Homo sapiens: one gene and its partners. The protein of the gene in region 1 purifies or fractionates together with the protein of each later gene. This does not show direct contact. Each region holds a gene or a part of one and is shown on either strand. Other genes may lie near its edges.

Evidence for each region.
Region 2: the proteins of BBOX1 (region 1) and RTF2 purify together in Homo sapiens (affinity purification with mass spectrometry; 3 studies listed by BioGRID and IntAct, with this or other methods). This does not show direct contact.
Region 3: the proteins of BBOX1 (region 1) and CASP2 purify together in Homo sapiens (affinity purification with mass spectrometry; 3 studies listed by BioGRID and IntAct, with this or other methods). This does not show direct contact.
Region 4: the proteins of BBOX1 (region 1) and ITPR3 purify together in Homo sapiens (affinity purification with mass spectrometry; 3 studies listed by BioGRID and IntAct, with this or other methods). This does not show direct contact.

What each region holds. Positions count from the first base shown.
Region 1 is NC_000011.10:27,050,815-27,057,840, reverse strand, and holds part of BBOX1 (gamma-butyrobetaine dioxygenase), read right to left. Parts: intron 2,473-7,026; exon of another isoform or gene 2,449-2,472; 5' UTR 2,411-2,448; coding exon 2,192-2,410; intron 641-2,191; coding exon 526-640; intron 1-525. UniProt on the Homo sapiens protein: Catalyzes the formation of L-carnitine from gamma-butyrobetaine.
Region 2 is NC_000020.11:56,506,623-56,513,648, reverse strand, and holds part of RTF2 (replication termination factor 2), read right to left. Parts: intron 335-7,026; coding exon 221-334; intron 1-220. UniProt on the Homo sapiens protein: Replication termination factor which is a component of the elongating replisome. Required for ATR pathway signaling upon DNA damage and has a positive activity during DNA replication.
Region 3 is NC_000007.14:143,298,345-143,305,370, reverse strand, and holds part of CASP2 (caspase-2 isoform 1 preproprotein), read right to left. Parts: intron 6,855-7,026; exon of another isoform or gene 6,559-6,854; intron 5,449-6,558; coding exon 5,320-5,448; intron 5,168-5,319; coding exon 5,077-5,167; intron 4,992-5,076; coding exon of another isoform or gene 4,931-4,991; intron 1,588-4,930; coding exon 1,438-1,587; intron 698-1,437; coding exon 588-697; intron 432-587; coding exon 300-431; 3' UTR 1-299. UniProt on the Homo sapiens protein: Is a regulator of the cascade of caspases responsible for apoptosis execution. Might function by either activating some proteins required for cell death or inactivating proteins necessary for cell survival.
Region 4 is NC_000006.12:33,617,367-33,624,321, reverse strand, and holds the start of ITPR3 (inositol 1,4,5-trisphosphate-gated calcium channel ITPR3), read right to left. Parts: upstream 3,001-6,955; 5' UTR 2,720-3,000; coding exon 2,631-2,719; intron 2,534-2,630; exon of another isoform or gene 2,454-2,533; intron 977-2,453; exon of another isoform or gene 1-976.

The DNA of each region.
Region 1 (7,026 bases):
AACGTGGCTTTGTGTGCATGTGTGTGTACATGCACACACACAAATTGTCCCACACTCACTGGCATTTGCAGTGCTATGCGTACCGTTTCATGGGTTCATCAATCCCATAATTCCATCTATGAATACCAGGTTAGGAATTCTTGCTTTGTTGATTTGTGTTGTTCTGGCCTTAGACAAAATTGTTATAAAGGGCCAGTCTGCCTCTAGTTCATCCTGCTTCTTTGTAGTGAACACTTACGGAGTGTCTGTGGTATGCTGTGCCAGGTTTTGCTTTAGATGACAAAGACACAAGTTTGCTGGACTTATTTTGTTTCTTTCTCTGTAGAATGTCTAGAATTACTCTATACTCCTTTTCATCTCTACCCAAATGATATTTGTCGGTAAAACTTTAAATACACCACATAATTTACATGTCACATATTTTAATCAAAGCACAAAGGTTTGAATTTTCTGTGAGCAAATTTCTTAATAAAAATCCTTTACTGTAAGGGTTTAAAAAGACATTGAAGACTTTGGCAAAGTTACCTGGAAAAAACAATTCTCTTTGGAGCTTTGCTCTGGCCTGCTTGGAAAAGCATCTTTTCTTCAGCCAATCAGCCTGGAATTCACTGTAATGCTCATCGGGCCATGTGATGTACACCTTATAACACAAAAAGCAAATTTCACCTATGTGGATTTTATTTCCGTTCTCCACTATTGCTCTGTTTTTGAATGCTGTTTAAGATAATCAGGGAATCCAATTATGCTTTGCTTAATTTTTTTTTTTTTTTTTTTTTAAGTCGGAGTCTTCCTCTGTTGCCAGGCTGGAGTGCAGTGGCGCAATCTCGGCTCACTGCAACCTCTGCCTCCCGGGTTCCAGCGATTCCCCTGCCTCAGCCTCCCAAGTAGCTGGGATTACAGGCACGCGACACCACGCCTGGCTAATTTTTTGTATTTTAGTTGAGACGGGGTTTCACCATGTTGGCTAAGACAGTCTCCATCTCCTGACCTTGTGATGCGCCCGCCTCAGCCTCCCAAAGTGCTGGGATTACAGGCGTGAGCCACCATGCCTGGCCAGCTTAATTTTTAAGACAGAGATTAAGCATACGCTTTTGGAAAACAAGGAAGCCAAAGTAATACATCTGAGGTCTGAGGCCCTTAAATAGCACTCAAGAAATAGAGCATGGATAGATCTACAGTTCTTGACCTACATCCTCTAAACCTGGGATCCCCAAACTTTCTGTGATAACTGAAGCTAGTTGTCAATTAAGATTCCTGCCAAGAGTATTAGAAATAGTAATGGTGCAGCTGGGTGTGGTGGCTTATGCCTGTAATCCCAGCACTTTGGGAGGCCGAGGCAGGCAGATCACAAGGTCAGGAGTTTGAGACCAGCCTGGTTAACATGGTGAAACCCCGTCTTTACTAAAAATACAAAAATTAGCCGGGCATGGTGGCCCATACCTGTAATTCCAGCTACTTGGGAGGCTGAGGCAGGAGAATTGCTTGAACCCGGGAGGCGGAAGTTGCAGTGAGCTGAGATCGCCCCACTGCATTCCAGCCTGGGCAACAGAGCAAGATTCCATCTCAAAAATAAATAAATAAAAGTAAGTAATAGTAGTGATGATAAGGAGTACAACAGCAATAATAAAAATAACACTATTTTGAGTATCCATAACAAGTACTATAGACATAACACATTTAATCTTTACAACTCTAGGGGGAAGGTACTACTATTATTCTCATTTTTTTCAGGTGAGAAATGTAAGAGTAAACAACATTTCTATCTAGCTAGCAAGCAGTGAAATCTGGGAGTAAAGTCCTCAAGTCGGGATGTGGACAAGAGCATAATAAGAATCCTAGTAAATTTGGAAGAGAGAAACATGGAATGGTGGCTGCCTCTGGTTTGTAGTTTTGAGAGCTGTGCTTTTGGGAATCCCAGAACAAGCCTTGTATCTCTACATACTAATTTGACTAAAAGACAAGTAACACTGCAAATTTTATTAAAAATAGTAGTAGTAATGATAATAGTAATAATAATAGCTGAAGCTTCCATTTACTGAATATACTTAATTCGCACCAAGTACTATACAAACGTGGGTTCATATGCGGTTATATATGCGTGACCAAATAAAAAAGAGTTATCTAAATTATTGTTGACTAGCCCCATTATTGAACTTGAGAAAGAAGGGAGACATAATTTAGAGATAATTACCTTTTTTCTGTCAAATATCAAGCCTTTAATTCCAATGTTCACATCAAGAGCTTCCACTAGAAGTTTCCGTGCTTTTGCAGAATCCAGGTAGCAATCAGAGCACGGACAGTTGTCTCTCAACCATACAGCTGGGTAGAGAGACTCTTCCTCATCATACCAGAGGATCTGCATCAAATGAGCCCCGTCAAGTGCTTCTGCCTTTTGGATGGTACAAGCCATGTTTCCGGTCTTCAGGAGTAGATGCTGTCAGCTACCTGCTATGACAAATCAGTGTTAAAAGGAATCTCAGGCAGATAAGATCTAAACTTGGCCTCTGAGAGTGTGAACACTTCAAGTGGACTCTGGCCTCTGCTATTCACTCAGCTGTCAGAGTCTGCGGTTTGACTTATTGACGCTGGGACCTTTGTTCTGGTGAGAGTATTTCACATACTGTAAGCAGAAACACAGTGACTAAAAGTAAATGGGATGTAAGTGCTGAGTCAGGATCCAAATGAAAAGAATTCCTTGTTTTTCTCACAGAAAATTCAGATATTAAGTTCAGAACCAATGACATATGCACTTTAATAATTATGTTTGCATAAAAGCTCTGGAATGTTTAAGGAAGAAAAATGTTCCACAAATTGAAAGTGTAACAATCACCCCTGTCCTATTTTAACTGGTGCCCACTTGGACATGGCTTTTGAAAAAAAATGTTTTTATGATACTAAATTAGTAAACTCGTCTTTATGAAGAGAATATTAATGCTTATTATTTACTTAAAGACCACTGTAATTCAGAATATTGCACTGTTTCTTCAATTCAGAATATTGCGCTGTTTCTGTTCTATCATTTGCTTTTTTACCTTTACAATACATTTTCTTAATGAAATATAGAAGTCCTTAGGTTCTGCAAGAAACTTGCTTGGTTTGTTGAGATTTTTTGTTTTAATGCATATCAATAGAGTGTGCCTTGTTACTTCAGTTACTTTATTCTGAACCTTTTTGGAGTACTTGTGTATACCTTCATATTACTTGGGATTACATGACTTACTTTTATTAAAAAAATCCAGCAAATTTAAGGACATGGACTATTTACAGGAGAGGAAACTTAGTGAAACAGAGACACCGTGGTATTATGCTTGAGCAACGGTGTTGATCCTGATTCCATTAGTGACTATATATTTGACCTTCAGAAACCATGCCAATGTTTTACATTTTACTTTCTTCATATGTTATTTTCCAGCACTCTAAACTTACGTGGATGAAGTAGAACTTACATAGGAAAAGTAGAATTTATATGCGAGAAGTAGAGCTCCTTAACTTCGTCCATGTAGTGATCTGCTCATCATTAACAGAAGGTGACATATGACAATGGAAACAATACTTCATTGCCTTGAGATGAAGGGGAAGTAGGAATGCATGTACACATGTGCACGCACACACACACACACACACACACACACACAGACACACACACACACAGCTTATAAAATCCCTTCCAGGCACTGCAATAGGCACTGGGGGATTTAGTGACAAGTAAGATAAAATTGCTCCCTGTCCTTCTTGAGATTATGGGAAGACTTTATGCAACATTAAGATAACTTAAAATATACCTTACACAACATGAAAGTAAAATACTTCTAGGTGGTTTCACATATGCTTCCTCAGATCATTGGCTTGGATAATTTAGTCAAGTTATGGAGCAGAGTCAATAGGAAAAATATTGCTTTGTCCCTTTAGCTTCACATATAGAGTTATCCAATAATTGCATGTGTGAAATACAATTAATTGGCTCTCATGCTTATTTCTGCTTTGGAACTATAATTTTTTTCTTTAAATTTGTATAGTGGTAGGAGAACACTATTACTTAAAAATAATCAAAAATTATAGTGTACTTTCAAACCTGGAAATTTAGCTCATAAGTCTGAGTGAGGAGCATTATGGAAGTCCTAACATCAGTTTCTCTGTGGAATGGGTAGGACATTTGAATTTCCTGACAAGAGAAAGGGTTGGCTGGCAAGTTTTCTCACATACATTGTTTCAAAAGACAAAGATGGCTCCAATGACCCTGGAATAATACAACTAGATCCTTAAATAACACTAAAAAAAAGAAATGTAGTACATTTTAACCGGTGTCAAGGGATGGCAAATATGTTCTGTAAAATGCCGGACGGCATATCTTTTAGGCTTTGCAGTTTATATACAGTCCCTGCTACATATTCCTGTTTTTATTTTTTAAAACCCTATAAGAATGTATCAACTATTCTTAGTTCATGGTGTGCACAAAAACAATGTAGGCGACATTTTGCCCCCAGGCAGTAGTTTGCTTACTCTTGATCAAGTTATCTAAGTTTATGCTTTCATTACGATGGAATACAATCATGCTTAAATGCAAAAATGGTTCTCTTTCCCTTGTCATTTATAAAGTTAAACTTACTCAAATATATAATAAGTATCTTCTTTGTGCATGCTGCACTAGAAGGTACAAAGATGACTTTGAAGTTCCAGACAACCAGGAGAAGACAATTATGAAAATAAACAAATATTAAGGCCAACATTGCTGAATGCATATCGGTTTCACCTTATTTTCCTTCCTCACTAGTACAACATTTTTTGACTAGGAAATATTTTGTCAGCTTTCTTTGTAGCTAAGATTAGTTATGATATAATTATGCCCAATGAAATATATTTGGAAGTTGCTGTGTAGGGAAATTTTAAAAAAGGTGATAAGACTTGGCTGCCATATGCTGTTTTCTCTATTTTTTTCCACTTCCTTTCTGGAATGTGAGTGTAGTATTGGGGGTGAAGCAGTAATTTTGCAACCATTAGGCAAGAAGCGGAAGTATAAAATCTAAAAGAAGTCAAGAGTTCCCCAGGGTTCTGTGAAAACACTTTACCAGCAATAGATGGTCATGTCTGGACCTCCTTTTTACATGATAAAAGCTAAATTCTTTACTTATTTAAACCTTTATTTGCTAGCTCATCTGGGTACAGATAAGTTGGATTTAAGAAGATTTGTGAAAGGTCATTCCACATTTAGGGTGCAGGCTGAGCCAACAACAAAGATATGAAAATACAGTGTTTGAGCAGTAGAAAACATGTTGTTTGGCTGGAACAAAAGGCTATGAGGGGAAATGGTGGTTGAGAGAGATTAAAAGGCATGTTGATACCAGATCATGAAGCACCATGCATAGCAAGATAAGGAGTTTGGGTTTCATTCTGTTATGAATGGGACTTTTTAAATATTTTTTTCAGGTAGCAGATTTGACAATGAAGGTGATGACAGTGTGTATGGTATATTGAAAGAAGGTTAAAGGGTTAGAATCAGATACATTGTATGGAGCTGTTGTAAAAATGTAGTCTAAAAGAAATAAGAACTGTGGGAGTAAAAGCATATATGGGAGGACACATGTAAGCAATGTTCCAAAGATATTCTTTAAATTGCCTGCAGTTTATATTCTCACAAAAAGTTTTATTATTCTCTTTGCAATTGTATGAAATATCATTTTATGAAAGATAATGACTTTGTCATCAAATCAATACCAGGGGAAAAACTGAAAAACTCCTGTGAATTTTCAGTTTTCACAAATATGTGAAAATTAAACAACAAACTCCTGAACAACTAATGGGTCAAGGAAAAAAATCAAAAGAGAAATTAAAAATATCTTGAGACAAATCAAAATAGCACACATCATAACAAACTTTTGAGATGCAGTAAAAGTAGTTTGAAGAAGGAAGTTAATAGTGATAAATGCCTTCATAAAAAATAAAAAAAGATCTTAAATAAACAATCTAGCTTTACACTTCAAGGAACTAGAAAAAAGAAGAACACATTAATCCCTAAGTTATCAGAAGGAAGGAAATAATAAAGATTAGAGCAGAAATAAATGAAATAGAGACAAGAAAAAAATTAAACTAAAACTTTTTTGAAAGGTAGAATTGACAAACCATTAGCTAACCTAAGAAACAAAGAGAGAAGACTCAAAATCAGAAATGAAAGAGGAGACATTACAGCTGATACCACAGAAATACAAAAGCTCATAAGAGACTACTATGAACAGTTACATGCCAATAATTGAATAATCTAGAAGAAATGAATTCATTCCTAGAAATGTACAACCTACCAGGACTGAATCATGAATAGAAAATCTGAACAGAATAAGTAGGAAGATTAAGTCGGTAATCAAAAACCTTCCAACCATGGAAACTCCAGGACCTGATGGCTTCACCAGTGAATTCCACCAAACATTAAAGAAGAATTAACACAAATTCTACTCAAATTTTCCCCAAAAATTGACAGAGAGGGAATACTTCCAAACTCATTTTATGAGGCCAGCACTACCCTCAAACCAAAGGCAGACTAGAATACTGAAATAATAGAATATTACAGACCAATATTCCTGGTAAACATAGATGCAAAATCTTTAACAAAATACTAGCAAAATGAATTCAATAGCACATTAAAAGGATCATACAGTATGATCAAGTGAGATTTATCTCTGGGATGCAAAGATGGTTTGACACACACAAATCAGTAAATATGACAACACATTAGCAGAATTCAGGATAAAAATTAGGTGGACATTTCAATAGATGCAGAAGTGGCATTTGATAAAATTCAACATCCTTTTATGATAATAATTATCAACAAAGATGTATAGAGGGAATGTATCTCAACATAATAAATGCCATCTGTGCCAAGCCCACAGCTAACATCATATTCACTGATGAAAAGTTGAAAGCTTTTCCTCTAAGATTGGGAACAAGACAAGAATGCCCACTCTAACCACTTCTAATAACATAGTACTGGAAGTCCTAGCCAGAACAATTAGGCAAGAAGATGAAATGAAAGGCATC
Region 2 (7,026 bases), on another chromosome or scaffold:
TGAGAAAGCTCGGCGGGGAAGAGCAGAGCCGCCGTGCTCACCACAGCAAGGCAGTGCCTGGGCCTCAGCTGGAATCTGCTTCTACAGTCCAGGCCCTTCTAGGTTATAAAAATCGCCTTGATCATGCAAACCCCTAAGCAGCTGCCAGCTCAGTTCAGTGATTTGCAGTCGGCTCTGGAGCAGAGATGGGGGCTGGGCGGAACCTGAAGACTCCCATTACCTTTTCCAGCTTCGCTCTCAGCCTTCTCTCCTCCATCCTTGTCTTCAGCACGTCCACATCCTCCTTGGTGCCATTGAGCATGATGACATCATCCTCCTGGAAGGCAGCCCCACACTGGAGAGGGCAAACAAGAGAGGGCAGATTCCATCACCAGTCAATGGGGAGGCCACGCTTCAGTCCCCCACTCTCAGCCCCAAGCAGTGGCCCCCAGGCTCCGAGTAAATTCCTATTACCGGCTTTCTGGTCAAAGCCTTGGTTTGGAAAGTTCCCGCACACAGCAAAGTGTCAGCGTAGCAGGTTAAGAGTGCTATCACTTGCAAGGCTGGTGCCTGGATGGTGTCTGGGAACTTGGATTTTGGGAGGGTTCCCGCCATTTTTTAACTGACAAGAGTAGCTTGGCTCACCGTGCCTAGACCCTTTTGTATGAACAACGTGGTCTATGCTGACACCTACCTGCTTATGGGAGTGTGGAATTCTGGAACATGCTGGGCCGAGGGTATAAAGCCAGCCCTCAGCCAAAACTCTGGGTACTGAGTCTCTCATTTGCTTCCCTGGGCAAAAACATCACACGTGTTGCAGTTTCGTTGCGGGGGGAAGTATTCACTTCGTACAACCCCTTGAGGGAGGGAGTGCGCGTAAGGAAGCCCCACGTGGATTCCTCCAGACTCTGCTACATGCGCCTTTTCCCTTAACACCCAGCTGTGCATCCATACCACGCTGCTGCAGTGAATGTTAGTTGAATACAACCATATGCTAAGTCTCAAGTCTTTCAGAAAACCCCCAAGCATGACGGCAGCCTTGGGGGCGCCCAACACACCCCGGCAGAACAAGACTGCGAGCAGGGTCTAGACCATCCTGACAGTGTTGTGGTGGTAGAAACGCACACATACACACCAAAGGCATGCCCACACTCACAGAGCTGTCAGTGAGTGAGCCACCTCTGCAGAGGCTCCCTGTGACCATGCTGTCACTGGTGGGATCCCAGCACTCTTTCTGTGTTGGCTCCATGGCACTAATCATGACCTGGAGTCTTGTCTTCATCACTTTGTCTATGTTGTTTTCTTCCCTGCTGTGGCCCCAGCAGCTACCCAGTGCCTAGCACAGCAGAGGTGCTCACGGCTGGGGACAGGAAAAACAGGGAAAAAAAGAGAACGAGGAGTGGAGGTTCCCAGTCCTGCATTTTGAATTGAGATTTCTGCCACCATCTGTCTAGGCCACCTGGCTCAGGCCACACCACTTCTCTGGGCCTCAGTTTCCTCAGCTGCAAAAATGAGGGGTCTAAGACTGGGCGCGGTGGCTTATGCCTATGATCCCAGCACTTTGGGAGGTCGAGGTGGGCGGATCACCATTTGAGGTCAGGAGTTCGAGACCAGCCTGACCAATATGGTGAAACCCCGTCTCTGCTAAAAATACAAAAACTGTGTATGGTGGTGCTGGGTGTGGTGGTACATGCCTGTAGTCCCAGCTACTCGGGAGGCTGAGGTGAGAGAATCGCTTGAACCCGAGAGGCAGGGGTTATGGTGAGCCGAGATCGTGCCACTGCACTCCAGCCTGGGCGACAGAGCGAGACTCCGTCTCAAAAAAAAAAGAGGGGTCTAACCCAAGTGCAGTGGCTCTCTAACCACTTGGGGTCTAACGCAAGTGCAGTGGTTGATCCTGCTCCCTAGTGGACATTCGGCGATGTCTGGAGACATTTTTAGCTGTCACATCTGGGGTGCAGGTGCTATTGGCATCTTGTGGGTAGAGGCCAGGGATGCAGCAAGCATCATACAGTACACAGGATGGCCCCCCCACAGAGAGTTACCCAGCCAAGATGCCCCTGTGCTGAGGTTGAGAAGCCCTGGACTAGGGTTATAAACACCTAAATGTAAAAAAGGAAAGAAGAATAATTTATAGGAAAATGTGTTTTATAACTAGGGTAGGAAATGTCATCTAAAACAGTAGTTCCCAACCTTTTTTGCACCTGGGGCCAGTCTCATGGAAGACAATCTTTCCATAGATGGTTGGGGGAAGGTTTTGGGATGAAACTGTTCCACCTCAGATCATCAGGCATTAGAGTCTCATAAGCAGCACGCAACCTAGATCCCTCACGTGCGCAGTTCACAACAGGGTTTGTGCTCCTAAGAGAATCTAATGCCGCTGATGGAGCTCTGGCACTAATGTTCTCTCGCCTGTGGCTCACCTCCTGCTGTGTGGCCCGGTTCCTAAGAGGCCACGGACTGTCACCGGTATGGGGGTTGGGGACCTGTGATCTAAAGCTTTAAAACTTATTTTAAATAATTTTTATTTAAACTTTAAAAACTTATTTTAAAAAAATAAGTTTTACCATGTAAAAATTACAAACTTTTACATGACAATGTCACAACAACAACAAAAAACAATAAGCCAAAGGCTAAGTGAAATATTCATAGCATATATAACATTCAAAGGATTCATTTATGGAACATACTCATAGTCATGTAAACTTTTTTTCTTTGAGACAGGGTCTCACTCAGTCACCCAGGCTGGAGTGCAGTGGTGCCATCATGGCTCAGTGCAGCCTCCACCTCCCAGGCTCAAGCCATCCTCCCACCTCATCCTCCTACCTCATCCTCCTGAGTAGCTAGGGCTATAGGTGTGCGCCACCATGCCTGGCTAATTTTTGTATTTTTTGTAGAGACAGGGTTTTGCCATGTTGTTCAGGCTGGTCTTGAACTTCTGGGCTCAGGTAATCCACCCGCCTCAACCTCCCAAAGTGTTGGGATTACAGGCGTGAGCCACCATGCCTAGCCTCAGTTTAAAGATTTCATTGATTTTACCCTGAAGCTGGTAGGCCCTGTGTTAAGACATAGTCTCTGCCCCCTATGAGTTGGGTGGCAAGTTTTTAAAAATAAAAAATGGAGCAGTGAGCTTACTATTATCATCTTGTCTATGAAACTTCTGTCTTCCCCTGCCTGAGGAAGTCTCTTCAAACTTTTATTTACTCTGTAGCTAACTCTTAGAAGAGCATTCTGGGTTTCTGTTTTACATCTTCTGATCTCCCAAACCTTTTTTTAGGGGTGGGGGAAGCAGAAATCATGTTCTATCTCTTAGCTCACAGCACAATGCTCAGGACACAGAATGCTAAGAGCCGGCTCTAAAAGGAACAGCTTCAGCACCACGTGCATTTGCTACCTAACTCGCCTTTTTAAAAAACAGGTTTTCTGAAATCTCATTTACATAACATAATGAAGTATAGAGTTCAATGGCTTTTAGTATATTTAGAGTTGTGCAACCATCACCATAATCTAATTTTAGCATATTTTTATCACTTCCAACAGAAATCCCATACCCACTGGCACTCACTCCATTCCCCTTTCCTCAGTCTTAGGCAACCATTAATCTACTTTCCATCCTACAAATTTGCCTCTTCTGGACATTTCTATAAATGAAATCATACAATATACATGTTTTTTTTTTTTGTGACTGGATTTTAGCATAATGTTTTAAAGATTTATCCATGTTATAGTATGGATCAGAACTACATTTCTTCTTATTGCCAAATAAAGTTTCATCTATGAATCAGCTGACAGAGTTGTTTCCACTTTCAGACTAAGAAATTCACATGGAAGTCTTTTGTGGACAGTTGTTTTCATTTCTGTTGGGTAGATACCTAGGATTGGGATGACTGGCCATAAGTTAACTTTATGTTTAACCTTTGGAGGAACTGCCTCTCCTCAAATGATGAACTTCCAAAGAGGCTGCACCATTTTACATTGCCACCAGCAATGCCTGAGGATTCTCATTTCTCCACATCCTTCCCAACACCTGTCATCGTTTTTCTTTTTTTTTTTTTTTTGAGATGGGATCTCGCTTTGTCGCCAGGCTGCAGTCCAGTGGCATGATCTCGGCTCACTGCAACCTCCACCTCCTGGGTTCAAGCGATTCTCCTGCTTCAGCCTCCTGGGTAGCTGGGATTACAGGCCCCCGCCATCATGCCCAGCTAATTTTTGTATTTTTAGTAGAGATGGCATTTCAACCATGTTGGCCAGGCTGGTCTTGAACTCCCGACCTCAGGTGATCCACCTGCCTCCCAAAGTGCTGGGATTACAGGTGTGAGCCACTGCAACCAGCCCATTTTTCCTTTTAGTTATAACCATCCTAATGGGAGTGAAGTGCTGTCTCATTGTGGTTTTAATTTGCATTTCCCAAATGACCAGAGATGTTAAGCATCTTTTCACGTGCTAACTGACCATCTGTATACCTTCTCTGGAGAAATGTCTGCTTAAATCCCTGGTCCATTTCTTAATTGTATTATTTGTCTCTTTGATGTTGCGTTCTAAGAGGTCTTTATACAGCATATTCTGGATATAAGTTCTGTCTTAGTCCAAGACTGTTATGACAAAATATCTTACACTGGATAATTACAAAAGTTTTTTATTTTGATGAAATTGGACTTAGCAATTTTCTCTCTTACTGCTACGTTTTTGGTGTCATATTTAGTAAGTCATCGCCTAACCCAAGATTGTGATTTACTCCTGCGTTTCTCCTAAGTGGTTTGTAACTAAAACTTACAGATTTAGGTCTGTGATCACTTTGAGTTTATTTTTACATTCAATGTAAGGTAAGGGTCCAAATTCATTCTTCTGCATGTGGATATCCAGTTACCCCACACTATTTGTTGAAAAAACTATTCTTTCCCCCATCGAATTGACTTGGCCCTTTTGTCAAAAATCAATGACCATACATGTGAGGGTTTATTTCCGGACTCCCTATTTTATTCCATTGATGTATATGCCCGTTCTCATGCCAGCACCACACTATCTTGATTAGTGTAGGTAACATGACTTCAAAGAGTCACATATTGAGTGGATCAACCAAAATTTATCTTTCTAATATCTATGAAAAACTCTATTAAATGTTATAGTCATAGATGTTTAAAAGTATGCCAGATAAGGTCTGTTATTAACTAAAATATTTAGTTACTCCATAAGACACTGCCTTTGAAAAACATAAAGGCAGGCAACCAAATAATAACAAAATTCTTTCAACAACTGGAACAGTAATTTTAACAGACCTACTGTGCCCAGAGCAATAACAGACATACTATGCCCGGAATCTCTTTTGTAGAAAACATTATCAGCACAAGAAAAGCCATAAAAGTACTTTTTTTTTCCTGAAGTTGCCAAAGATTTTCCAGAATCTCCCAAATGCACAGAAGATACCAACAAGCATTTGCTGACTCTCCTCAGCCCCTGCCTTAGCTGGGTTATTTAATGTGGTTCTTGTCTCCAACAGTGATTTTCAGGTTAAGATCAGCTTTTTTTCTAGGGTGGGTCTGGTAAATTTTCGTGACTGAAGATACCTTTTTGACCCACAAATCCCTGAGGGTGGTGCCATAGAGAAGTTATATGAATGACTGAAGCACGTGCCCAATCTAGCATTTAACTGGTACAACCCTTGAAGAAAAGGAGCTTGTTTTTAGCCATCACTGTAGAGAGCTGGGCCTACAGGAGGAGGGACAGCCTGCTCTGCTAGAGGAGGTTCCCTGGGAAGTCTCACGCTATGGGAGGTCTGAGTAGAGCTTTCCCTTGGCTCTGGAAGATGGTCTCTTCCTTGGAATGAAAAAGAATCTGCAGGAACAGAACCAGGTGGTAGTTAAGGCCCAGTGGGGCCTGGAGCTGTGGCTATGACGTAAAGGGCCCAGGGGTGGGGAGGAACCCAGCGTCTGCTCCCTGTGGGTGCTGCCCCCACCTTTCTTTTTCTCTCCTCCTGGGTTTCTGCTGCTGCTTCTTTCTATCACTCCTTGCTGCCCCTCCTTCCGACAGTGTTGGGGTAAGCGGTCTCCTTCCTCTAGATCAGACTGTTCAGAGGACATGGACCTTATTCTGCATACAGTTGTGTTGTGTTGTGCCCAGACTTATTGTACTTTTAAAGTTGAATTGGCCACTGACAATAAGAAGTCAGGAACCCCTCACATTAGAAATTGAGTAATCTTGCTCTTTCTCTCGAAAATTCAAAAGATCCATTAACACCAAACCCACACCCTCAAGGGCCTCAATGGCTTGAACCTTGGTAGGAATTGCCCCTGGAGACTGGGCAGAGTCCTCCCAACTGCTAGGGGCCCCATCACTCGTTCTGGGTAGGTGCTTGACCCGAGAGACCTGAGTGCAGTGGTTCATCCCTGAAGGATGAGGGAAAACAAGGGTAGGGGCTACTGCGGAGATGGGGAGTGGGGCTGCCGCAAAGTCACAGCTGGTCCACAGGGACCTGCTCCCCACCTCTTTAGTAAATAATATGTATTATACCAACAGAAAATCACCCATATCTTCCTGCTAATGCATTTTTCTTGAGTACTGCTATTGTACGGTAGAAATTATACATCCATTTAAAACTGTATCTTCATCCTTTTTATCGCTTGAAACTCAGATGTCCAAAGAATGGGTGAAATGGTTAAAAAAATCATAATACGGCCAGGCGCGGTGGCTCACGCCTGTAATCCCAGTACTTTGGAAGGCCGAGGCGGGCGGATCACGAGGTCAAGAGATCGAGACCATCCTGGCTAACATGGTGAAACCCCGTCTCTACTAAAAATACAAAAAATTAGTCGGGCATGGTGGTGGGCGCCTGTAGTCTCAGCTGATCGGGAGGCTGAGGCAGGAGAATGGCGTGAAGCTGGGAGGCGGAGCTTGCAGTGAGCCGAGATCGTGCCACTGCACTCCAGCCTGGGCGACAGAGCGAGACTCTCTCTCTCAAAAAAAAAAATTATAATACATTCCCAAAAAGGAAGATTATATGGTTAGAGTTTGGGGCAATGTAGAAAATGCTTATCATAAGTTAAACGAAAA
Region 3 (7,026 bases), on another chromosome or scaffold:
TCCCCATAACCACACTGTGTTTACAACTTCACTTGTCAGGCTCTTCAACTGCAGCTGAAACATTCCTGGCAATAGGTCCAACCAAGGCTGGCTCTACAGGCAAAGGGCTTCACAGAAAAGGAGCTGGCCTGGAGTCCCACACTCAAAGGCAGAGATGATGGGCACAGGAAACAAGTCTGGGAGATTCCCACATCCCTGAGGGGGCAGAACAGAAACCGTGCATCCTGAAGATCAAAGGCTCTATCACACCTCCTGTGGTCCAGTGGCTTCCACTTGGCGTGGATGATGGGGAGGTGACATCATGTGGGAGGGTGTCCTGGGAACAGGTAGAGGTGGCGGCACAGAGTGCTGCAGTATTCAGACATCTCCTTGCACCGGTGGAATTCTGTGCCAGGAGCATAACCTTCCCGATCCTTGATAAGTGCGTTCACCTGGAGGGGCAGAACCAATAGGCCCAAGTCTGAGAATCTCGGGCTTCAGGAGAGCAGCAAACGGGAAGGGGAGACGGACTATGAAAGAGCATTCAAGAGAGGAGGAAAGTAGAGCACTGTGGAGACACACAGGGGTCACGGAGCCCGCTGGCTCACCTTAACCAGCATGTCGGCCACGTGCATATCACAAGCCCGCTCAGAAAACACTTGAGCAAGAGCCTCGATGTACCAGGAACCTCGTTTGGTGTTCCGCATGGCGGCAGTCCCTGCAACCAAAAGGGCATTAATCACAGTGTGAATGCCATCACACAGCTGCACTTCCCAAACTAGACTCGGCCATGACACCTGCACCCTCCCTAGTCAGAGAACCCAGCATGAAGAATCTAAGTCTAGGAGGGTACTCTTTTGGATTATTGGCATACTTTGGAGATACCGTAGGTCTGTTTCCAGACCAGCTTAAGAAAGTGAATATGGCAATAAAGCAAGTCATACAAATTTTCAGGTCTCCCAGTGTATACGGAAGTTATGGTTACTATCCTACAGTCTATTAAGTGTGCAACAACATTATGTCTAAAACATGCATATGCTGTAATTAAAACATACTTTATTGCTGAAAAATGCTAACAGAGGCATGCCAATAGAAAAATGGTGCTGACAGATGCTCAAAGGATTGCCACAAACCTTCAATTTGTAAAAAGCAGCTGAGCATCCCAAATCCAAAAAATCTGAAATGCTTCAAAATCTGAAACTTTCCAAGTGCCAATATGATGCTCAAAGAAGGTGCTCATGGGAGTGTTTTAAATTTAGAATATTTGGATACGGGATACTCAACTAGTAAGTATAACGCAAATATTCCAAAATCCAAAAAAACAAAAAAATCCAAAATCTGAAACACTTCTGGTTCCAACACTTCAGATAAGGGATACTCAACCTGTACCTGCAAAGCACAATAAAGCAAAGTGCAACAAAATGAGGTATGACTCAACTCTTTTGGAACTCAAAGTACCTTTGAGGCAGGCATAGCCGCATATCATGTCTGAGCGCGTGGGCAGTCTCATCTTCGGCAACTTTTCTTTACCGGCATCACTCTCCTCGCACCCAGGGGATCCTGCGTGGTTCTTTCCATCTTGTTGGTCAACCCCACGATCAGTCTCATCTGTAACAAAGGCAGACAGAATGGACAATGATGTTACTTCTTCCTATCTCTCTTGGGCCTGTCACAGGCAAGCCCACGTTCCCTACAACCTTGAAGGGGAAGAGCCATTTCCAGCTGTTGCCTCCAACCTATGGCTGATAAACTAAAAAAAAAAAAAAAAAATTATTACTCTCTCAGCATGCATCTGTTACTCAGGGGATGCCTCATACACACCGGGCACCACGCTCAAGCACATGCACATCTATGCGGTTGGAGCAGTTCCCATTCTGTGTAAGACAGGGAAAATGCCAAATCAAATACTCCTTGTAAATGGAACTGAAAATCATCTAAGTCCACAACTCACTTGTTCAATTAACAATATGCCTGGGAGTCACAGTGCTTTTTATTGCAATACATAATAAAATATTGATATATTTAATTACATAAACAAGAAAAAACAAGGTAATAAATAACAAATACGGTTACCATATGTATGCTATATAAAAATCACAACCTCGAACTATGTATCAAAAAATAATAAAACTAAGTATGATCAGTTGTTTCCAAGGTGGTTTTGATATCTTCGAAGCACTATGTTTATTAATTTCATAAGATAAATTATAGCAAGCATCCAAGATTTAAGAAAAAAAATTTTTAATTTATTTTTTAAAATAACTTTTTAAATCTTTTTTTTTCTTTTTTTAATAGAGATGGGGTCTTGCTACGTTGACCAGGCTTGTCTTGAACTCCTGGCTTCAAGTGATCCTTCTGCCTCGGCCTCCCAAAGTGTTGGGATTATAGGCATGAGTCACTGCACCTGGCCTTATGAAAATTTTAAGAGGAAAAACTTAAAGTGGGGAGAACTTGACTGTTTTCTCCCAGAAAATTTAAAAAGATCATCCTTATTCAATTTTAGCAGTAATTTCTCAACATACCCTGAGCAGATCCTTGCTCTTGATACAAGCCTTATGTATCCCAAGACAGACTCTTATTTTTGATGATGTTGTTTTATTTTGGGTGTGGGCAGGGGTGCTGTCAGTAGGCAAGACAGATGGGGAGGACTCTCAGGTCAACACATCAAAAGTAAGAGTATGCTCTTTTACAGTACTTCCTGATCCATGCAATGTCGAGGGAGCCTAGGAAAGAAGGGAAGCTTCAAGAATTGGGGGAAAAGGACCAAAGCACAGGTTTAATAAAAATGTGTCAAGCAACTGCCATGTGTTGGGCACTGTCTTACTTTAAGGCCTAGGGATAGAGTGAAGAGAAAATTCCTGCCGTCATGGAGCTTACACTCCAGTTTAGAAGCTGACTGGGGCAGGGGGGTGGAGCTTTTTCTAGACATTAATTATATTAACCAAATACAGCAGGAAGACAGGTGAACTCAAATTTTCAATGGAACAATTGGCTACTGGTCATTCCTTGAAGGATTTAATTTCAGAAAAGTTAGAGAGACAGAGCAAAAGATCCAGATTACTCCAGAAAAGAGCAATTACTCCTTATCCAGATCCAATAGTGTATTAAATCCCTGGATATAGGATGAGAAAATCACAATTTAACGTCGTTTTGTTAGTAAAGACGCCTAAAGGAAACAGGCCAAGCTAAAGAGAAAGGAGAATTCCTCTCTCACCTTTATATCACAGATCCATCAATCAATAAATGTCACTGGTTCTTTTGTCACAATATCCTCATATTTGTTTTTTACATAATACCTACAGTTTTTCAGGCAGATTAATTTTCATCCATTCATTGAACATTTATAAGTGCTACCATGCATCAGGCAGTGCCCTGGGCCTGGGGATAGAGCAGGGAATGAAAAGTAAAGTTGCTGACCCATAACCTCTTTCCTTAGTGCAGCCCCCTCCATGGCAACCTTGCTGGAAAAACAATTCATCACATTATTTCTTACTTAAGCTCCCAACTGTTCCTTACTTTTACCTGCTGATGTCCAAAACCTCAGTTATGACTAAAGGTTTGTAAGGAGGTGAACCCACTTCATTGTGACCAGCCACATCTCACATACTCACACAGATGCTATTTTAAAATCAGATCCGAGCATCTGTTTGGGAGGAGGGGAGACACAACATGCCCTCTGCCTCTCAGTGTACTTATCATATTGTATTGTTTCTTTCCTACGACAGACTCTAGATACTACTCTATAACTATGTAAATCAAATTACTCCAGGTACAAATTAAGCCTTATCTTATCTAAAAAATCTCTTTAAACTACCCTCACTTAAAATGATCTACTCTTACTGCATACTCCTTCCTAAGTACAGTTTGTACCTTGCTAATTTCACCTTTGCTTACATGAGGCCTGTGAACTAGTCTTAAGCTACTTCATGTATATTTACTTTATTTTCCTGAGTAACTGGTCTGCTCCTTAGAGAGGCCACATTTCCTTCTGCTTTTGCGGTAGTAACTGCCGTAGTCTGAGTCATGTTGCAGGGCCTCAGCAGACTATATTCTGCGGTAATACTAGATCAGGATGACAATAATATTAGCTATTTACATTTGGCCACATGAGAGATTAAAAAAGTAATTATTTGAATGTTTGGACAAAGTGACCTTTAAAGCAAACTATAAGCCCTTTACGGCACTGATCGTGTTTTAAGAGTTACAGCTGGCATATTTTGTGGATGTGCTGTGAGCCAGGTACTGAGCTATGTAAGCCCTTAAATGCATAATCTCATTTAACCATCACAAGCACCTTATGAAGTAGGTACAAGGACTATTTTCATTTTATATTGAGGAAACTGAGATGGAGGGATGCCATTTAACTTCTTTAACTTCACGTTACTAGTAAATGGTGAAGTCAGAATTTGACTCCAAAGTTAGGGCTCTTAATTACTATTATTTTCCTCCAGGATGAGAAGCACACCTATGTGTCTTTTAATCCTCGTCCTGCAGTCCTGGCTCTTAAAGGAGTAAAACAGACTGCATGAGAGAAAGAGGGGCAGCAGCAGCTCACGGAAAAGGAAGAGTCAAAGGCCAACACGGATTCTGTTCTGCTATCCTGCATGACCCAAGAATGGTAAGAAGAAAGAAGAAAGGAGGCAAGCATGGAAGTGTAGGTAAACAGGGAAGTATATGGAACAAGTGAAAAGAACAAAGAGTGAAAGAAAGGAGATAAAATAAGAAGGACAGGAAAAAGACAGATCAAAAATCCGTAACTGGAATGAGTAACCAAAAAAAGGGCACCAGAGTTAATGAAGCACAGAAAAGAGTAAGAGTTCTCAGAAAGGAAGGCAAAGACACGGGATAAGAGACCTGAAAACAGGATATGGTGGTGCACGGAGAGCTGACCAGCCTGAGAGCCATGGGCTGCCCAAGTCCCAGCACACCCCATGCATTGGGAGACACTTACAGAGCAAGAGAGGCGGTGGCAGCAGTGAACAGAAGGAGGTGCCCAAGGGATCCAATAGCACCTGAGAGGAGCAAACAGGAAAGTGAGAGCTGGTGGGAGGCTGCCCAGGAGCCACCACCCAGGTGCTGGTCTGCTAGGGCACTCACCTCCACGGCAGGCCTGGATGAAGAACATTTTTGGTTTGTTCTGTAGGCTTGGGCAGTTGGCGTTGTCAAAGAGCTGAAAAACCTCTTGGAGCTGCCAGAAAGAAAGAAGGAAGAAGAGAGGTTAAGCATTCAGCGGGGCCTCCTAAGTCCTACACATGCAACAGTAGCCATCACTTGACAGACAGCAGGCAGGAGGTAAAGCAGCCTGGTTTCAACAGTTGGCTTCCACCAGGGTATCCGCACCTGGAGCAGTTTCCCATCCACACCATAGATGGCGCCCTCCACACCATGCGAGAGGAGTGCCACGATGCAGGAGTCCGTGACTCGGTGTGCAGGTAACTGTGCAAAATTCTGCAGTTTCTCTTGCATTTCCTAAAAGAAAGGAATGTTTAGTGTTGTGCACTAAGGTCAGCACCAACATAAGCATCAAAGTTTGGTTTCTTTTTGAAACCCTAAGCTATTAGAAGATAAAACGCTTTATGTATATTCCTGTGGTCAATGATAAAAGAAGAGACCTTTTGAGAGACTAAAGAAAGCTATGGACTCACCAGAAAAATGCATATGAGTTCAGACACAATATTCTGAATACAGATTCAGACTCACTGAGATAGGCAAACAGCTCCTGGATTAAAGCAAGTTACTAAAGAAGCTAATCATGAGCTGGTCAACTCTGATTAATTCCCTGTTCATAACCAGATCCTTCATTAGAGCAACTGCCCTTGTATATAAATGGCACAAGGGTGACTCAAAGTGTAGCTATGAATAAGTAACATGCACATTCAGCTACACGAAAATAAACTGTTCTGTGACAGCATCATGATAGTAGAGAATAGCAATACTTGTATGTTGTCTTCTAAGATTCTAAGTGTCCAAGAGATAATGATGATGACTGTATAAAATGCTTTGTTTCAGAAAGAGCACGCTATGAAGGAGGATTCTGTACAGGGCAGTAATTACATACACAGGTCCTGGGTTCAGATTAATCTAGGTTTGAACCTTGGCTTCATGAGTTGGAACAGCTTACTCAGACCCTTGAGACCTCACTTTTCACTTTATAAAAAAAAATTATGAGGATATTTTCTCTAAGTTTGTGAAGATAAAAATGAGATATTATGACAAAGGACTTGGCCTGGACAACCTAGCAAGACTCCATCTTTAAAAAAAAAAATTAGCCAGGCATGGTGGTGCATGCTTATAGTCCCAGCTACTCTAAAGGCTACGGTGGAGGGATCACTGGAGCCTAGGAAGTTGAGGCTGCAGTGAGCTGTGACTGCACCACTGCACTGTAGCCTGGGTGACAGAGAGAGACCCTGTCTCAAAAAAAAAACCAAAAACCGATCACTGTGTCTGGGACACATTGCAAAAAATGTGCCATTACAATGTGCATGTCGAATAAAGAGTATTTTTCTCAAAGAAATCTATTACTGGTCAATGTTGTAGTCCAACTTAAGAACTGTTTTCCTGTTTATCTTTTTTTTTTTTAGACAGGATCTTGCTATATTGCCCAGGCTTGAGTGCAGTGACTATTTACAGGTGTAAGATCACTACTGATCAGCACAGGAGTTTTCACCTGCTCCATTTCTGACCTGGGCTGGTACACCCCTCCTTAGGCAACCTGGTGGTCCGCCACTCCCAGGAGGTTACCATATTGATGATGAACTTAGTTTGGACACCTGATCAGCATAGCACACTACAGCCTAGAACTCCTGGGCTCAAGGAATCTTCTTGCCTCAGCCTCTAGAGTAGCTGGGACCATAGGCATGTGCCACCATGCCTGGAGAATCTTGTTTATCTTGCACTAAGTTGCGATACATGAAGAGCACTACCTTAAGCATTTGGTCCATCCATCAGAAGGTTATACTGTGTACCTAAAGAGCATAATAATTGGGCACACATGTTTAAACCTATGCCTCCCTCTATAATTCACGATGTCTGGGTCTTCTGAGATGG
Region 4 (6,955 bases), on another chromosome or scaffold:
TCCCCAGCACCCAGTACAGTGCCTGTAGACCTGCTAAATATATGAATGGTGTTAATCCTGGCAAGGTGCCCAGCATTAGATGGGCCTACAGGGAAGCCTCCAATGTGAGGAACACCAGAGAGTGGTTTGTACAAAGCAGTTCAAAAGCATAGAGGACGAAGGGTTAATTCTGCCCTAGGGGTTGGGGAAGCTGGATTTCTCAAAAGAGGCCACTTTGCATTAAGCCTTAGAGGGTGGGACAGATTTACCCAGGTGGAGACTTGCTTGCTAAAGGGCGGGAACAACCCAAGAGCAAAGGTAAAGAGACTGAGAGCGCGGGACAGGTTGCAGTCGTGTGGTGCACCTGGAGTTCCAGGTATGGGAAGGTGAAAAAGCCCCAGAAAATTATGATGCAGACCTGCACAGGCCGATGCTAGAAAGCCATGCTAGGAGGGTGGACATCCGCTGGTGGAACATCAGGAGATGTTGGAGGTGTTTGCAGAGGGAGGGGGTACCCCGGCGTAGAAGGGCTTTCTAGAGGTCACCAGGATCTGCCCCAGGATCAAGGTGGACTGGAGGAAGCAGTTCCTGGGGCAGGAAGGGCCAAGCTGGGAGGAAGTTTTGGAGGCAACAGAGGGAATCCTTTGTGAGGGAGTGAGGCCTGCACAAGGGCAGGGGAAGAAGCAATAAGATGTTTTCCCTGATCTTGTTAAATCTCACAGGTGCTAGGCAGGGCACGGTGGTTCACGCACTTTGGAAGGCTGGGGTGGGCGGATTGCTTGAGCTCAGGAGTTAGAGACCAGCCTGGGCAACATGGTGAAACCCAGTCTCTACAAAAAAAATACAAAAATTAGCCGGGTGTGGTGATGTGCCTGTAGTCCCAGCTAGTTTTGGGAGCTGAGGCAGGAGGATTGCTTGAACCCCAGAGGTCGAGGCTGCAGTAAGCCAAGATTGCATCACTGCATTCTAGCCTGAGTGAGAAAGTGAGACCTTGTCTTAAAAAAAAAAAAAAAAAACAAAACTCACAGGCACTTGAAAATCATCATGTGTTCAGCCCCAAGCCAGGCACTAAGCAACAGAGGTGGTCATTTCCCAAAAGTCCCTGGTGCTCTTCAGACACTAGGAGGGGACTTCCACGATAGATCCCTATGTCCCTCCCAGTCCCCACACCCTCTCCTCCTTCCCTCAGCTTTATCAGAGGTGTTTACTCTGTACCTACTGTGGGCAGCCCTGGCCTCAGGGCAGCCAGGGCCTAGTCACTGCTCTCTGGAGGAGGCCTGCACAAATGCTGGCCCAGATGTGGCTCCACCCCCATCCTCTAGGGAGCTGGGAAGAAGTTAGATCTAGTGGAAGTGGGGACAAATAGGCAGGGATTCCACGTGTGAAGGGGAGGGCACCAGGAGGGACCTGGATGGTTCTGCGAGAAGGCGAGCAGGGCAGGCTGGAATGCCAGGTGAGAACTCCCTGCTTGGCAGAGCCAGCCCTCCAATCCCACAATCCATTCCCTTTACACCAAGATGAAAGCTAAACTCCCAGCAACCCTGGGAGAGACCAGTGACCCCTCACCTCCCAGGCTTGGGGTGAGCCGGGCCCTGTCCAGCATCAGTCCTGAGCTGAGGGTGCCAGGTTGTCCTCCAAGGCCATCAGAAAGAAGGCACCACGCGGCTGGCTGGTCCCACTCAGTGGATCAGCAGAGGAGGGTGGGTGTACCCTAGAGGACAGCCATGTGTGGTTGGGAGGATGAGACAATTTAACCCAGGCCCCCAGACTGTAAACGGGACAAAGATAGCCGACCCTGCCCTGGGGTCTGGCTGGAGAAACCACCTACGCTCCCATCCAGCGAATCACATCCAGCTGCTCCTCTGAAGATAAACCCATCCTCTCTACCTAATTTCTCTCCTGCCCTCTCCCTGCTACAGGCCTGGCCCTCTCCAGGGACGTGAACTGATTCCCTGTTCATCCAGCCCAGACCCTGGGAGGTGGCGGCCAGAATTAATTAATGTTTGTGAAGTGCTGGAGAGAAGCTAGAACCAAGGACCCAAGGGCGCCAGATGACCGGCGCAGGAAATTGAATGGGAGAGGCGGGGAGAAGGGGCAGCTGGCCAGGACCTTGAAGCCTGGAAGGGGAGGGCTGAGAAGACACTCCTACTGAAGCTGGGAAGAACAGGGAGAGAGCTGTGAGGAGAAGGTGCGACCCCTCAAAGGCACCACGGGATCGGTAATAGAGGATTACGGGCTCCAAGCTGAGCCTGCCCACTCCCGACAGCTCCGCCCTACCCTCAGAGCCGGGCACGTCTCGGCCCGGCTGCCCTTCCCCAACTCAGCCTCCAGCCACCCACCTGCCCGCCCCCGGGACCACCTGCAAAGGAAGCCTCCGTCCCTCCGCCCCCTCCAAAGGCGTGCGCGGGAGGGTAGAGGCTGCGCCGCCGAGGGAGGCTCCTCCTGCCAACTCCAGTAGGGAGCCCGAGTCCTACCTGAGCAAACACTTCACTTCCTTTCTGTAAAAGAAGGAGGCGAGCCGTTCCCGCTCCTTGAGACTAGGGGGACGTCCAGGCCTCTATCGGGGGGCGGCGGCTGGACGCACGCAGCTGGCACCAGGGCCCACGGCGCCCCCTCTTTACCCGCGCCCCTCTCGAGCTCGGCTCACTCACCCCAAAGTGCTGATGAAGCCATTGACGGAGCCCTCGGCGTACAGGGAGACGATGTCCCCGATGTGAAGAAAGCTGGACATTTCACTCATGGCTGCGGCCCTCCGGGGCCCAGGGCGTGGGGGGCGCCTAGGGGCGCGTGGCCAAGCTCAGTGCGGAGGACTGAGGCGTCCGGGGAGCGGGGAGGGGTACGCTCCCACCTCGGATCCCGACGCTCGGTGCGGCCGGGGCGGGCTGGCGGCCACGGGAGCCAGGAGGCGGCTCGGCGGGGCCCGGGGTCCGGGTGAGGAGGTGCCCACGTCTTGGCGCGCCCGCCGCCCGCCCGCCCCGCCCGGCCCGCGCGTACCTGCAGCGTAGAAGGAGCAGGAAGTCTGGGGCCACCACACACATGCAAATCCCGCCCGGGAGGCGGGGAGGCCACACCCCGCCCCCCCTCCCCCCGCAGCTCGCCCGCCGGCACCCATGTGCACCCGCCTGCCTTCCCGCGCCCCGCGCTCCTCGCGCGTCCGGGGCCCGGCCTCCCGGACGCCGAATGCGCCGCCAGCCCTCCTGATCTCCAGAGGCGTCCTGCAAGGCACCGGGTCTAGGGGGCTCTCGGAGCTGCCATCCCTGGGAGGCCCAGGCGTAGTGGGGAGCTCTCCGCCCTCGGGGTTCCCGGACTATCTGCACCCGGGCCCTCGGCTGGCTAAGAGCCAGTGCAGGCGCCCGCGGAAGGGGGAGTCCAGCTCTCCGGCGGGCGTCACCCCGGAGCCGCTCGCGGAGGGCGCGCCCTGGAGCGCCCTGGCCGCGGCCGCCCTGCGGCCACCGCGCGGTCTCCGCGCCCAGCTGAGAGCAGGCTGGCGCCCAGAGGCGCGCTCATCCCTTTGCAGAGCAAATTCGGGATTCATTTTTCTCAACGTGAAAAGCCTTTTCATTGCACAATAGAAAGTGCTCAGGCTTGGAGGGGAAATGAAGCAATGGGGTGGGTTTTGTTTTTTTTCTCTCCGCATTCCTGTGTACAAAGAGATCCAACTTCCGAATCAGTTCAGCCGCTCCCTCTCCAGGAGTTGGCTCCAAAACTCTTGGCTCCTTCCGTCTTTCCTTTCAAAAAAAAAAAAAAAGCAGGGATGAAAATTACCTTCGCTAGTTGACAGAGCACCCAAGCGCTAACGATGCCAAGTCTGGGTGCCGGCCCCCTGGGAGTGACCCGCTGCGGCAGCGCCGCCAGGCTCTGGCTCCCGAAGTCCTGCCCTCAAATTCGCGTCCCGGGCTCGCTTACTTTCTGTTCTGTTCCCCGGTGCTTGGGTGTTTGCTTCCTAGTCCTTTATTTGAACGCCTAAGATAGGGTGCCCATTGCCACCGCCATCCGATCACTTTTGCTCCCTTCGGACCCCCCAACCCCACTTCCTGAGTTGTGGGGGGGCGTTTGTCCCTGGGAGAGAGGGAGGAGGGGACTCGGTGACTGAAGCAGGAAGAAGAGAGGCTAGGGGAGGGGTGGAGACAGCTAAAAGCAAAGAGACAGCTGCTGACCCTGGGAGGAGAAGAGCCCCAGGCAGTGGTTTTTTTGTTGTTGTTGTTGTTTTGTTTGTTTGTTTGTTTGTTTGTTTTACGAAGACCCCCAGGAACGATGTGGGAGGGAAGGACACCTCCAGGATCGCTAAGTACCGTGTTTTACAGTTTTGTTTTGTTTTTTCACCATGGCAAACAGTAACAAGTTTTACAGCAGACCAGTCCACACCTTCGTCTATATATAAGCAAAACAATAGATCACCAAACAATACTTACTTTTATGACCTTTGATGCATGCTGATATTTTCTATTCTATTTCAGTTGTGTTCTTGTTGTTGCTTTAATGCTGATTGTAACCCACTGAACTGGTTTTTTTTAATGTCCCAAATGGGTTGCAAACTGCAGTTTAAAAAACCTCATCCAGTCCACTGTGCCAAAAAGAGATGACCAAAGCCCAGAGAAGGAACACCACCCATCAAGGGCACACGGCAGGTTCCTGGCAACTGGAGGCAGAAGCCAACCAAGCCTCTGATTTTTAGCCGGGTATTCTCCTATTACCCCACACCAACTGAGCCACAGCGATGGGTCACTGGAACCTCACTGAGAAGGGGCAGCCCCTGGGACAGTTTCACTTGCTCCCAGGAGTCAGGCCTCCTGTATCATCCCCAAAAGTTAGAAGGGAAAAATATGCCTTCATTCCATAAGCATTTATTGAAGGCCTGTGATGTCAGGCCTCTGCTGGGCACCAGGCTCTGATCAAGCTGTCAGCCTGGGCCCAATTGCCTTTTTCCCTTCCCCAGACCGTGAGGATGAAGAGGGACAAGTTGAAAACTTGCCTCCAGTGGCCACACTCAGAACTTGTGCCACAGCCACACCCAGGAATCCACCTCCTTCCTCCCCTGACATCCATATAGATGGTTCCATAACTCAGCCGAGGTGTAGCAGCCAGGAATGGAGGTCACTCCACTTTGGGTCTCTCTGGACTAAAGCACATGGCCTTGTTTCTCCCCACCCCTCCCCATCCTAGGAATACTTAGAGCCTCTGTCTCTCCACCAACCAGGAGGTCTCAGAGGTGAGGGCTCTGGGCCCCTGTCACCTGCTTCTTCCAAATCAGCTCCACTGTAAGCTATTTTATATACCTGCGTTCTGAGTTAGAATTTGTTTCAAGAAAGTTTCTGTTGGTTAAACAACAACAACAAAGACCAAAGTTTAAGAAACAGATGGTACAGCTCCAATGAGTTCCCTCCCCTGCTTCCTGCTTGAAGCCTTCCTATGCCTCCTCACTGCCCACAGAAGTCTACAGACCTGAGCCCAGCACACTGGACCCTCAAGTCTTGCTGTCCTCCCACCCTCTGCAGAAAACACAATTGCTCCTCAAGGAGGATCCATGCTGTAGACTGGCCAAGAGTGCAGACTCTGGCTCCCTTTTTTTTTTTTTTTTTTTTTTTAGACGGAGTCTCACTCTGTCGCCCAGGCTGGAGTGCAGTGGCGCAATCTCAGCCCACTGCAACCTCCACCTCCCAGGTTCAAGCAATTCTCCTGCTTCGGCCTCCCGAGTAGCTGGGATTACAGGTGCCCGCCACCACACCCGGCTAATTTTTGTATTTTTAGTAGAGACAAGTTTTCACCATGTTGGCCAGGATGGTCTCAATCTCTTGACCTCATGATCCGCCTACTGCGGCCTCCCAAAGTGCTGGGATTACAGGTGTGAGCCACCACGCCTGGCCCGGACTCTGACTCTTACAGGCCTGGATTAGAGTCCCAGCTCTGCCACTTTCTAGCAGGCATTCTCTCAGCCTGTTTGCTCATCTGTTAAATGGAGAGAGTACCATACCAACATGTGAAGGAAGTGTGAGCCATCAGCACAGCATCCCAGGCAGGAAGGACTCAGTGTGTCCCTTCTCATTTCCCCAGGACCTCATCCACTCATACCCCTGTGCCTGCGCTCCTGTGGCTCTCTCTAGCACTTCACCTTTTCAAGTTCCCATGGTCAGAATAAAGTCTTCTTCCCTAAAGTACTGGAGCACTAATCTTTTAAGTACTATTATGAAATATTTTAAGAAGTAATAGATAAAAATACAGTGAGTGCCTGTATCTTTCCTCTAGCTTTGTCAAATCTTTGTATTTTGCCAAATTTGGTTCTTTTTTTTTTTTTTTTTAAGAATTAAAACTTAGGCCGGGCACGGTGGCTCATGCCTATAATCCCAGCACTTTGGGAAGCCAAGGCAGGCAGATCACCTGAGGTCAGTAGTTCACGGCCAGCCTGGCCAACATAGTGAAACCCCATCTCTACCAAAAATACAAAAATTAGCCAGGCATGGTGGCATATGCCTGTAGTCCCAGCTACTCGGGAGGCTGAGGCAAGAGAATCACTTGAACCCAGGAAGTGGAGGTTGCAGTGAGCCGAGATCATGCCACTGCACTGCAGCCTGGGCGACAGAGTGCAGTTCAATCTCAAAAAAAAAAAAAGAATTAAAACTTAAAAAATTTCAGTTGTGTCCAGGCAAGGTGGCTCACATCTAATCCCAGCACTTTGGGAGGCCGAGTCTGGAGGACCACTTTTGCCCGGGAGTTCAAGACCAGCCTGGGCAACATGGCAAAACACTGTCTCTAAAAAAAAAAAAAAAAAAAAATTAGCCAGGCATGGTCGTGTGCACCTGTAGTCCCAGCTACTTGGGAAGCTGAGGTGGGAGAATCACCTGAGCCCAGGGAGATCAAGGAGGCTGCAGTGAGCCATGATTATGCCACCGCACTCCAGTCTGGGTGACAGAGTGAGATCCTGTCTTAAAAAGAAAAAAGATCAGTTGAAGTTCCTTATGCACCCTTCTCCAACTACATT